Linked DNA regions of Homo sapiens: region 1 is linked to region 2. Evidence: fine-mapped expression QTL. A gene starts in region 2. The other region holds a variant in brackets. All regions are shown on one strand. Distances are between the middles of the regions. Region 1 overlaps DMTF1 (cyclin D binding myb like transcription factor 1). Region 2 holds the start of CROT (carnitine O-octanoyltransferase).

The links. PIP is the estimated chance that this variant, and not a neighbour inherited with it, causes the effect. A credible set is the group of variants that fine-mapping cannot tell apart.
Region 1: its variant is the best candidate, but not a certain one, in a credible set for the expression of CROT in whole blood (TOPMed, PIP 0.77).

The regions. Positions count from the first base shown.
Region 1 is chr7:87,180,060-87,185,444 of GRCh38, forward strand. It overlaps DMTF1 (cyclin D binding myb like transcription factor 1), which reads left to right. Exons shown (of 18, transcript NM_001142327.2): 9 at 1,250-1,282; 10 at 2,169-2,278; 11 at 4,338-4,566. Among named protein-coding and RNA genes, the nearest start is that of DMTF1-AS1, 30 kb to the left of the region's middle. The variant CT/C (reference allele first, on the strand shown) is at 2,454.
Region 2 is chr7:87,342,637-87,348,021 of GRCh38, forward strand. It overlaps CROT (carnitine O-octanoyltransferase), which reads left to right and starts at 3,028. Exons shown (of 18, transcript NM_021151.4): 1 at 3,028-3,131; 2 at 3,704-3,794. TP53TG1 (TP53 target 1) reads right to left here and starts at 2,856. Exons shown (of 3, transcript NR_015381.1): 1 at 2,407-2,856. RefSeq lists a silencer at 2,844-3,053.

The DNA of each region.
Region 1 (5,385 bases), 160 kb before region 2:
CCTAGGTCAGTGGCCTTTTTTTAAATCCAGAATGGAAAAGAACTACATTTCTGAAAACAATGTATGGATTTCTGTTTTAGATAGCATTTATGGGAAGGCATCATTAAGATTCTTCAAATGCAATGATTATATACTGTTACTGACATATTTTTAATTTCTCTTTGGAAATTTTAGGTGGCAGTAGTATGGCTTATTAGATACTGCCGAGCTAATGTTGGAGCTCTTTCTCTAGCTCTTCAGCAGCCTGCTAATGAAAGTACATTTGAAAGCTGAAGAGGATTAAATTATGTTTTTGTGACAGTGGAAAAAGAGAAAAAATTTTAAATGGAGCATAAATGACTTGTTAGCAATTCATAAACTTTCCATGCATTACAAATGGTTACAAAGTGAGCAGCGTTTCATAATTATTAAATGGACATTTTTAAAAAGAACATTACATAGGCTGTATTGAGTACTTGCCTACTGTAATAAAGAGCAAGAGTATGTCAGATGTCCATACCTGGGTAAAGGAAATGAAGATAATCTTAATTTGTTCAGTGCTTTGAGGGAATTTTCTGTAGATTTTCTTTTTAGCTCTAGTTTACAATGTCACCCATAAGTTTTTTTGGAGTAGTTATGATTTGAGAGTGCCAAAATCTAAGTTTGAAATAAAGGAACTGTTAGACAGCATAGGAGCAAATGTATGTTTTAAATGTTGATTCTTTTTCTAGAGAAAATTATACAATCCTTACCTTTATTATAACTAAAAAATATTTACTGTTTAAAAAAAAATAAAAATAGAAGCATTTATTTTCAACTTTTTTTTTTTTTTTTTTTTTGAGACAGAGTCTGTGTTGCGCAGGCTGGAGTACAGTGGCATGATCTTGGCTCACTGCAACCTCTGCCTCGTGAGTTCAAGCTATTCTCCTGCCTCAGCCACTCTAGTAGCTGGGATTACAGGCGCCTGCCACCAGCTAATTTTTCTGTTTTTGGTAGAGATGGGGTTTTGCCATGTTGGCCAGGCTGGTCTCGAACTCCTTGCCTCAAGTGATCCGCCTGCCTTGGCCTCCCAAAGTGCTGGGATTATAGGCGTGAGCCGCACCCTGCCTATTCTCAACTTTTATTAATCCACTTTAAAATGGGTTACTTTAAAAGTATTATATGCTAAGTGACTTAACATTCAGCTCCCTAAATGAAATTCTGATTTTTATTGAGGTTTTTAGCATTCATTGTTTTAATTGATTTTTTAAAAATTTCTCTGAATTTCTAGATATACACCTGAAGAAATTGAGAAGCTCAAGGAGTAAGTTTTAAAGTTTTTTTCATTAATTCTAATTTTTTATGTCTTACGTCCTTAAAAGTTTTACTTTGAAAATTTCAAGAGGTTTTTGGCAGACTGGTATAATTGAATTGTGCTATTAAGCATGATTGGCCTTAAAAAGATCACATCAAATCCATTACTTGCACAAAATAACCATTCTCATAATGTATAATCTGGTCTCCTGATGCCATTCACCAGATGCTTCCTCAGACCACTAATAGGGGTTCCAGAAAAGATTAAGGGGCCATTTTTGGTAGCCTGAAGACTAAATTTGGGGAATTTATATACCAGGATGAAAACCAGGGTTGTGCTACATGGCTTGGTTTAGAATGGTGACTTGGCAAATGTTTCAGTGAATATCTGGGCTGACTCAACCTTGCAAAGGCTATTGAATCTCAGGAAGTAGAATTTTGCTTTATTGAGTTAGACCTTAAAGTATGGTTTAATGAATTGTATGGATCATGAAAAAATTTGAAGGTAGATTCTGTTTATAATGATAAAGACCTGTGAAACTTTAGATGTCTAAAGAAGAGTTTGTTGGGTATATGCTCAAAAGGGAAAGTCTGGGGCTTGCCTGGGAGATTGTGTCAGTAACCTGAGGGGAAATTGGTCTTTTTTGAACACATATCCAAGTTACTTATTTCTTCTCTGACCCAGGAAAAAGGCAATTGCTGCCTGTTTTTTTTTCACCCACAGACAACTGTGGACCCCAAAAAAAGGCCACACTTTCAAACTTTGGCTCTCAAAGTATTGCTGCCCACAACTTCCAAACCAGTCAAATGGGAAGAAGAAGAATGAAGAATAAATGATGAAATTAAAAGGGAGAAAACAATTGAACCAAATGCTGATTGGCAGACTCTTGTTTTAGGCTCCGGATAAAGCATGGCAATGACTGGGCAACAATAGGGGCGGCGCTAGGAAGAAGTGCATCTTCTGTCAAAGATCGGTGCCGACTGATGAAGGATACTTGCAACACAGGTACTGTGACTACTACTGGTAGCGTTTTCTTGTCACCACTTAAGCCTCCTGCCCCTTAGGATACTGCCTTTTCTTTGCTCTTGGGGAGCGATTTAGATCATTCACCTTAGTTCAGACTTTATTTTCTAGTCTTCCTTTTCCTTGAGCTTATTAGATATATCAAACTAATCTTTTA[CT/C]TTGTTTTTGTATAAGGTAACATTGTCTTCAGGGACACAACATCACCTTAGTGTCAAGATGATTCAGATCTAACATGTTTCAGTTTTGTAACAATTTCAATACTTCCCCAGTTGAGAAAGTATTTTGAAGACATACATGCAGCAAGTAATTTTAATTTAGGCCCATCTAACTGTTGAATTTACATTAGCAACAGCTAATCAGTGAGTGTTTATGAAAAACTTTAGTCACAGGTAAGTCCCAAATTAGGAAGAAGCTGTGTTCCAAAGATTTGTAAATATTTTGCTTATTTTAAACTCAAAGTATATTTTTCCATAGAAAAAATTTATGATTGGTGTTTCAGTCCCCTGGCAAGACCACAAATGCCTCTTAATGCATGCAGATGTCCTGATCATACTGTTAAACCTAATCTTTGCGACCAACAACGTATTTAGGCTCTGCTATTAACTGTCATTTAACCTTTCTGAGCCTCACTTCCTTCTGTAAAGTAAAGAGATTAGAGTAGGTGGTCTCATAGTGCCCTTTTAGCCATAATGTTCTCTGAAGGATCCACAATCCATGCCCACTGTTGCAATTAAAAAAAAAATTTCTGAAGTTTAGCTTTAGCTTCCAGGGCATATACATTTTGACCTTAACCCCCTGCTCTAAAAATGAAATCAGAATTCTTTCCTGCTTAACTACTGCACTATCACTGTTACCTGCAGGGCAGTGAGAACATAACTTCTACCAACTTTGTCATTCTGTGACATGGCCAGCTTAATGAAAGAAGCAGGGCTGTAAGCTTTAGATTTAGGATAGGATCTCAGAGTTTCATGTAAGATGCTGTGAGTACAGAACCCCTTTTGGTAACAAAATTTGGAAGGACACAGTGGCATTTCCTGATTGCCAACCTGAGGGATTGATTGATCTGCCTGCTTCCTTCTCATGTTGTGACATACAGCTGCTGATGAGGCCATGCCATGAAACAGCACAGTCTCAAAGTAGTCCCATCCTTTCACAGCATGCTAGAATAGGAGAGTAGAACTTTGTCTTGAATCCATCCACAGTATTCATAATTGTGCTTGGCATATAATGAAAATTCAATAAACATTTGCTAGATGAATGGAATCCCAAAGCAAGCACAGTCTTTTTGAAATTTTCTAGAGGTTTTCAGCTAGTAATAACAAAATGGAAACAGAGGTAAAGAAGATGAAAAAAAATGGCTTTTTTCCCTTTCTGTTTTTCTGCTCTAGCTCCATAAGAAAAAGACAGAGAGGAACATTTGGGGTTATCTATTAGTGGGTTTATGGGTTGAGAAAACACAGGAATAAAAGTAAATACTTGTATCAGACTTTACTAATATTTCATCACAGTAGCTTGGAGTTGGGATAGTGAGGAAACAAGATGGTAGAAACCTAGTTTTTACTAAAATAGGTTGAGCCCATTGGTGTAATTTCCCTTGTCCCTCATCATTCATTCCTATAAGTAATGGCCTCTTGAACTTACTTTTGCAGAGCAGGGAATCTTAGGTGACAGTAAGAAAAAAAGCATGCCATTTCTTGTCTGTCAGCCATTGACGAAGCTCTTCCCACTTCACTGTTTATAAAGGACTTAGTGTAACTTGAGAATACATTCTTCTTTGTAGTTATGTTTTGGGTGGTTTTTCTTTTCATAATTGGTCAGTGCTTTCCATTAGGATTCTTTATTTTCTTTTCTACTGAGACCCTTACTGGGCTAGTAAAATGAAACTGTCTTAGTGGGTATATATGGTTTTCCACCAGAGGGTCATTCAGAAACAAACTCTTAGTACTATTGCTTACTTCCTATCAGTCCTTGTAAATAGAGGGCTGAATCAGATTTGTAAAAGAAGTTAGCAGTGGTAGTCTGGATGATTTCCTTTTTTCAGGGAAGTGGACAGAAGAAGAAGAAAAGAGACTTGCAGAAGTGGTTCATGAGTTGACAAGCACTGAGCCAGGTGACATAGTCACACAGGGTGTGTCTTGGGCAGCTGTGGCTGAACGAGTCGGTACCCGCTCAGAAAAGCAATGTCGTTCTAAATGGCTCAACTACCTGAATTGGAAACAGAGTGGGGGTACTGAATGGACCAAGGAAGATGAAATCAATCTCATCCTCAGGTTTGTGTCCTGAATCTTGTAATGACAAAAGCAACTTAATTTCTGTGGATGTCTTGATAGACTTTCCTCTTTTGGTTTTCCTGGATGCCTAGTGTCTGAAAAGTATCCTTTCCATAGAGCACTACTGTTTAAGATCTTAAGTATTTCATATTGAGCTCTTTTTTTGTGTTGTGTTTGTTCCTTTTTTTTTTTAGTGGGTTTAGTGCTCATGCAAAGTACCAGATTGAAGGCGTGGAGACTGAAGTCCTCTCTATATCCACAGAACAGGTATGGCACAGGCAGCGGCAGTGTAGCTTTTCCACTGTCCCACCAATGTGCCTCAGTCCTAGCCTAGGGGGAACACGTTTAGGATAAGAGGGCTGTTCAGTCTCCATGCCCTTCAATCCTTGGCTACTGTGCTAAGATTGCCAAGAAGGGGGCCCAGTCTGTAGTTACCTCCACACCTCCAAAGTAGACCAAATCAAACACATCCATTTCATACAAATTCAAAAAAGCTTTAAGATATCATAATCCCAGCTTATTTTTTTAAGTAGCTGGTTTAACCATTAAGATTTATTAACTAAAATGGGCAAAAATACTAGCAAGAAATTATTTAAGACCCTGAAGTAATAGAGACTGTCACCATGGCTACTCCCTACCGAAAATCAAATTGTCACAACAAAGCTAGAAAACGAACAGATTTTTTTAAACCTCAAATTTTGTTGTACTGTTGTGTTGTTTTTTGATTGCAGCTATTGCTTTTGTGTTATTTTGTTTTGGATTTTTTTTTCAACTAGTCATCTTTATAAATAGCTCATTTCTAAATATTTTTGCTTAACA
Region 2 (5,385 bases):
ATACTAATTGAAAGCCTGTTCACACAAAGCTTGTACACAAATGTTTATAGTACCATTATTTAAATAGACAAAAGGTAGAAACAACCCAAATGTCCATGAACTGATGAATGGACAAACAAAAAGTGGTTCATACATTCATCAGTCAGTTGATGAATCATGTTTAATGCCTGTTGGTAACACAGAATTTAGAGCCACTTTGCTTCACTCTTTTCCCAGTCTTGTTATTTATTTCAATGGAAACAAAATGTTCCTGTAAAGATGCCTGGATTTTTGGATATAGAAAAAGTTGTGGGACTGAAAAAAATGAGTGGAACAGAGATTTGAGTATGTAGAAAATAATCTTTTTAAATATTTGAACCAAATGTTCTAAAATTAGCTTATGGTGACTGCATAACCCTGTGAATATAGTAAAACCATTGATTTGTGGACTTTAAATGGCCGAACTTTATGGTATGTAAATTATATTTCAACAAAGATGTTAACAAAATTTTTAAATGTTATATTTTGTTTAGTAAGAAGGTATTTTTTTCTGAGATGCAAAAACATCATAGTTATCTTAACTCTTCCCCTCAGATTTTGGTGGCAACTTTTCATGTACTGTAAATATCATCAAAAGCAACCCCAAATCAATGATTAGTACTAAAAAGAGACCTTTTGTATCAAACACTGTTCATCTGCTGTTGGCAGTGGAGTTCATTTTTAATGCTACATTGCCCTCTTTGCGTCCAGTGTACTTTAATTTGCTGTTGGCTGCTTCCCAAAATGACCATATTTCTACTGCCCCCCCATTAAAAAGAAGAAACATCACAAAATTATTTCTTCAACATGTTCATTTTATACATCAGAATGAAAGGAGGTTACAGGTCTCCCATAGATTAGGGCTATTTACCATATCTCCTTACTTATTAGAGTCACAAATCTTAGCAGGAAGCCAGTTATGCAGATTGAAACATGAACTTCTTAGTCTAGCATTTTAATACTTTTTAATGGTGAAATTTATCTAGACTTATCTATAAAGTCTTTTGCAATTTGTGGTATGCTGAGTAAGAACTACAGAAGAACAAAAATAAAAGATTTTTTTAATGGCAACTTAAAAAATTATCACCACTTGTACTACTTACAAATTTTCCTCCAAAAAGTTACTTTGACTCATAGTCAATTTTTAATCTTGGAACAACTTCTTGCTATCACAAATACTTCAAGTGCCTAAAACATCTTCCTTACCAGCCAATATCTCCCGCTCCACTCTAAGAAATGCAAACTCGTTCAAGTTTAACCTGAATGCAACATAATTTGGAATCTTTCATTAAAATATATATCACACATTTTGAAGCCAAACATATTTTAAAATACCTGTTTTTGGTGATTTGGGGTACATATGCTTATCAGTATAACATATTTTAAAAGATTTTTTTCTACATACTCAAATCTGTGTTCCATTCATTTTTTCACTCCCACACCTTTTTGTCTATCCGATAATTCAGGAATCTTTACAGAAACATCTTGTTTCCATTGAAATAAACAACAAGAGTAGGAAAAAGAGTGAAGCGAAATGGTTCTAAATTCTATGCACCAACAGGCATTAAACATGCATAAACTTTTAAAGAGATGCCAAGACTCACTAAAAAGGAGAAAAAAAATACAACGAAGGTTTCTGAGTAGTTTTTAGTTACTCAATTTAAAAACTTTATCTTGTAAGCAAACTTTAACATCATCCAGAGCATCGCACTTATATATGAAAGAAAAAGTTCTTTATCACACCTTCAGAAATTACAACTACAAATTCCTAATCCCTTATTTAAAATCTTTTTGGCTAGATATGTTTCAAAATTCAGAACTTTTCTTAGAATAGTACGTCTGCCATATATTATGAAACACTTCCAGCAAGCTGTACTGTAATCAAACACAATATTTCTGTAGAAAACTTATGAATATTTACACAAAGGGAACATTCAGTTACACATAGCCTCACTTCCCTTCAGGTCAAACTTTACTGCTAAAGGAGTTAGAAACGACAGACAAAGGAATGGGGCCTGTCATGACATGTTAATTTGAAATCTAAATCTTTATCTTTGATAACTAGTTCAGAGTCAGTGTAAACATTTGGTCTTTCCTTCCACAAAAAAATGAAACAGTGTATTTAAAATTAAAAATGAAACAGTATATTTTATTTCAGAAGGTAAAAGCAAAATGAATTAATCTGTGAAACTAAGTCAATCACATTATGATCTTCTAGAACTTGGGTAGCTCCACTCTGGTTAAAGATTCCATTTCTTGGCACAACAGTAAAAGACATCAGATAGGCCCGGGGGTAAGCATCCCTGGGGTATTCAAATAACTTGGGTAGCAATGAAGAGCTGCAGAAGAGCAAGGAGACCCGAGATGATGTAGTGTGCTGCGGCATACCTGAGTTGGGCAAACTCAGCCTCCGAAGATTAAAGGAAAGAGCCCAAGTAGGAATCTGTGTGATCACTGTTCTTTTGCCAAGACACGGGGTGGACAATAAGATTCCTTTACAAAGCACTGGTGTAAGTGTTCGCCTGGTGCTGCAAAAAGCGGCTCACTGGGAATGGGGAGGAGCGTGTGGTAAGCCAGACCTGCGGCGAGAAGTTGGGTGAAAATGGGTCTTAACCATCGCTTCCTGCATCTATCCCAGAGGGTTGGGTACCTTCGTGGGCGGAGCGCGGCCTGCCCAGAGTGCCTTCTAGATCCTGGGTCAGGCGCCAAGCTCCCCAGCATCATGCAGGAAGCTGCAGCCCCGCAGAGTTAGGACAGCTCATTTGGCACCCGGCGAGCCCTTCCCAGGCCCGCAGCCCAGAATAGAGCCGGGGCCCAAGACGCCCACTGGAGACAGGGTCGGGTCCCACTACCGCGCAGGCCCGGCTCGCCCCCGACGTCAGGCACGGGGCGGGACCCTTGCAGCTGTCCGTCCAGTCCCGTTCCCCGGAAAGTGAGGGGCGGGACCCTCGCGGCTTTCTATCCAATCCTGTTCCCCGGCGAATGCGGGGCGGGACCCTAGCGGCCTTCAGTCCAATTCCCGCACCTTTGAGGCCCAAGGGGGAGCGAGCCGGTGCTGCTGCAGGCTGAGGCTGCGGCAGAGGCGGCGAGGCGCGGGCGGTGAGGACGGACAGGTCCGTTGAAGCAGCATTCCCTCCCTCCCCTAATCCTTCAACTCGGGGGCGGGGGAAAGTTAAGTCGTGCAGAACCGCAAAGGTGCCTGGATTTGGTGGGGGAGTAGTGTCATCAAGCATCTCGCCTGCTGGGGTCTCAGGGGTACCCTCAAGGTTGGGCCGCGGGGCTGCTCCGTTGTAGTGCTTAGATTTCTCTCACTTGATGGCCTCTTGAGTGCAGAGTTGCTCTTGGGTTGGTGGGAAGAGCCTCCGAGCTCTCATTGCCCTCTGCTCCTGCTTCTACCCCTTGCCACTCTGCGACGAACCTGTTACCCAGCCACTGAAAACGTATCCTCTACCCTTTGAACCCGTCTAATGGAAGGTGTACTTGTCTGAAACCTACTTAATTGTATGATCATTTACTCCTGCTCTCTAGCAGGTGGACTATTTGCGTGTGTTTGCAGTGATTCACGAAAAGTTTGTCTTGGGAACTCCCAACTCCTAGTTTGTCTGCATTCCACCTTCTTTCACTAGCTTGTTCATTTCTTTTTCCCTCTTAAATATTTGTTAAGCTTGTTTCTTTCTTCCCACAGTCACCGACTTAGTCCAGTTCCCTGTGATCTCAAAACAATTGTTGCAGCAGGCTCCTGGCAGTCTCAAGCAGTTCATCTTCTTGGTGTACTGGTATGTGACAATTCCTTCACGTATTGTTCGTGGTTCTTTTCCACTTTCTGTGAATTCATATCTAATTGCCCCCAGAAAGTCAATTCTAATTAAATCTAGCATAATCATTTTCTTAGTGCTATTGGAACCATCTTATTTAACTTAATCTTTGTGGTTGAGAATTCAAGAAAACTCTTCAAGAAAGAATCCAATAATTTATATTTTTAATGTGTACCGGTTGGTGGGTTAAGCACTATAGTGGGTATGTAACTAATACTCTTGCTTCCAGTTTTCTAGAGTCTATTAAGTGGCACAGAGGTAAACAGAATAGCTTATCTTCTCTGTATGTGTGTACTAGTCTTCTATTGCTGCCTTAACCAATTACACAAATGCAACAATTAAAACAACACAAATGTATTATCTCATAGCTTCTGTAAATGTGAAGTTTGGGTGGGCTTAGCTGAGTACTTGGCTTAGAATTTCACAAAACCGAAACCAAGGTTTCTGTAGATTTGGATTCTTTTCTGGAGGCTCTAGGGGAGAATCCACCTCCAGGCTATTTCAGATTGTTGGTAGAATTCACACTGACATTTCTATATCCTTACTGTTTGTCAGCCTGAGCCTCTTTCAGTTCTTTAAGGCCATCTGCATCTTCAAAGACACCACAAATCCTTCTCAAGCATTAAAGCAGTCTTACTTGTCTGCCACTGGCCAGAGAAAGCTCTTTGCTCTTATGGACTCAAGTGATTAGATTAGTTCCAATTCGATAATATCCCTATTTTAAGGTCAGTTCTGTAGAGAATATCACAATCACAGGAGTAATGATCTCACCATATTCGCAGGTTCTGGGGATTAGCAGGGGTGGAATCTTGGGGGCCATTCATAGTAATTGTGCCTACCACAATATGGTGGTTTCAGGCAGGATTATTTTGTTTTTATAATGTGCTTTCACAGGCATTGAAAACAAATTCTGACTTTATTGAATTGTATGATTAACCACTCTAAGATAAGGAAATTCACTTAAAGTTGGTTGCCCTAGGGGCACATGGCTAGAAAGTGGCAGAGTCTGTACTTGGATCCAGATCTACATTTCCATTAGGTACAAACCCATTTTTATGGATGGTCAAAATGGTGTGCAGCCAAAGTCAATAGATAGAAAGAAGCTAAAGAACTTTGAGTTAATTATTATTTCTCATTTTCAAATTATCTCTTTATATTAGTGGTACAGGCTAAGCTCTTCTCCCTACAATAGAAAGCCCAAAATACAATGGTATGAATAAAATAGAAGTTTTTTTTTTTCCATACATCTAGAGGTAGGAGTCCAGGACTAGTAGGGAGATTCTGCAATCCTGCATATATGACTTCCATAAATGAGGCCATGGTGCTGTTTAGTTCGTCACTACCTAGCAGGTAGTAAAAAGGAGGGAAAGTGCAGGGAGAACACATGCATTCCTTTTTGGGAGCATGACCTGGAAGTGACACACACAAGGTCATCACAAAGCCACACTGAGCTCCAAGAGAGGGTAGGAAAGATAAAACTGGGGGCTGTATGCACAGCTACAACTCAGGATTCTGTTAAAGCAGAGGAAAACAGGTATTAGCTGAAAATAGT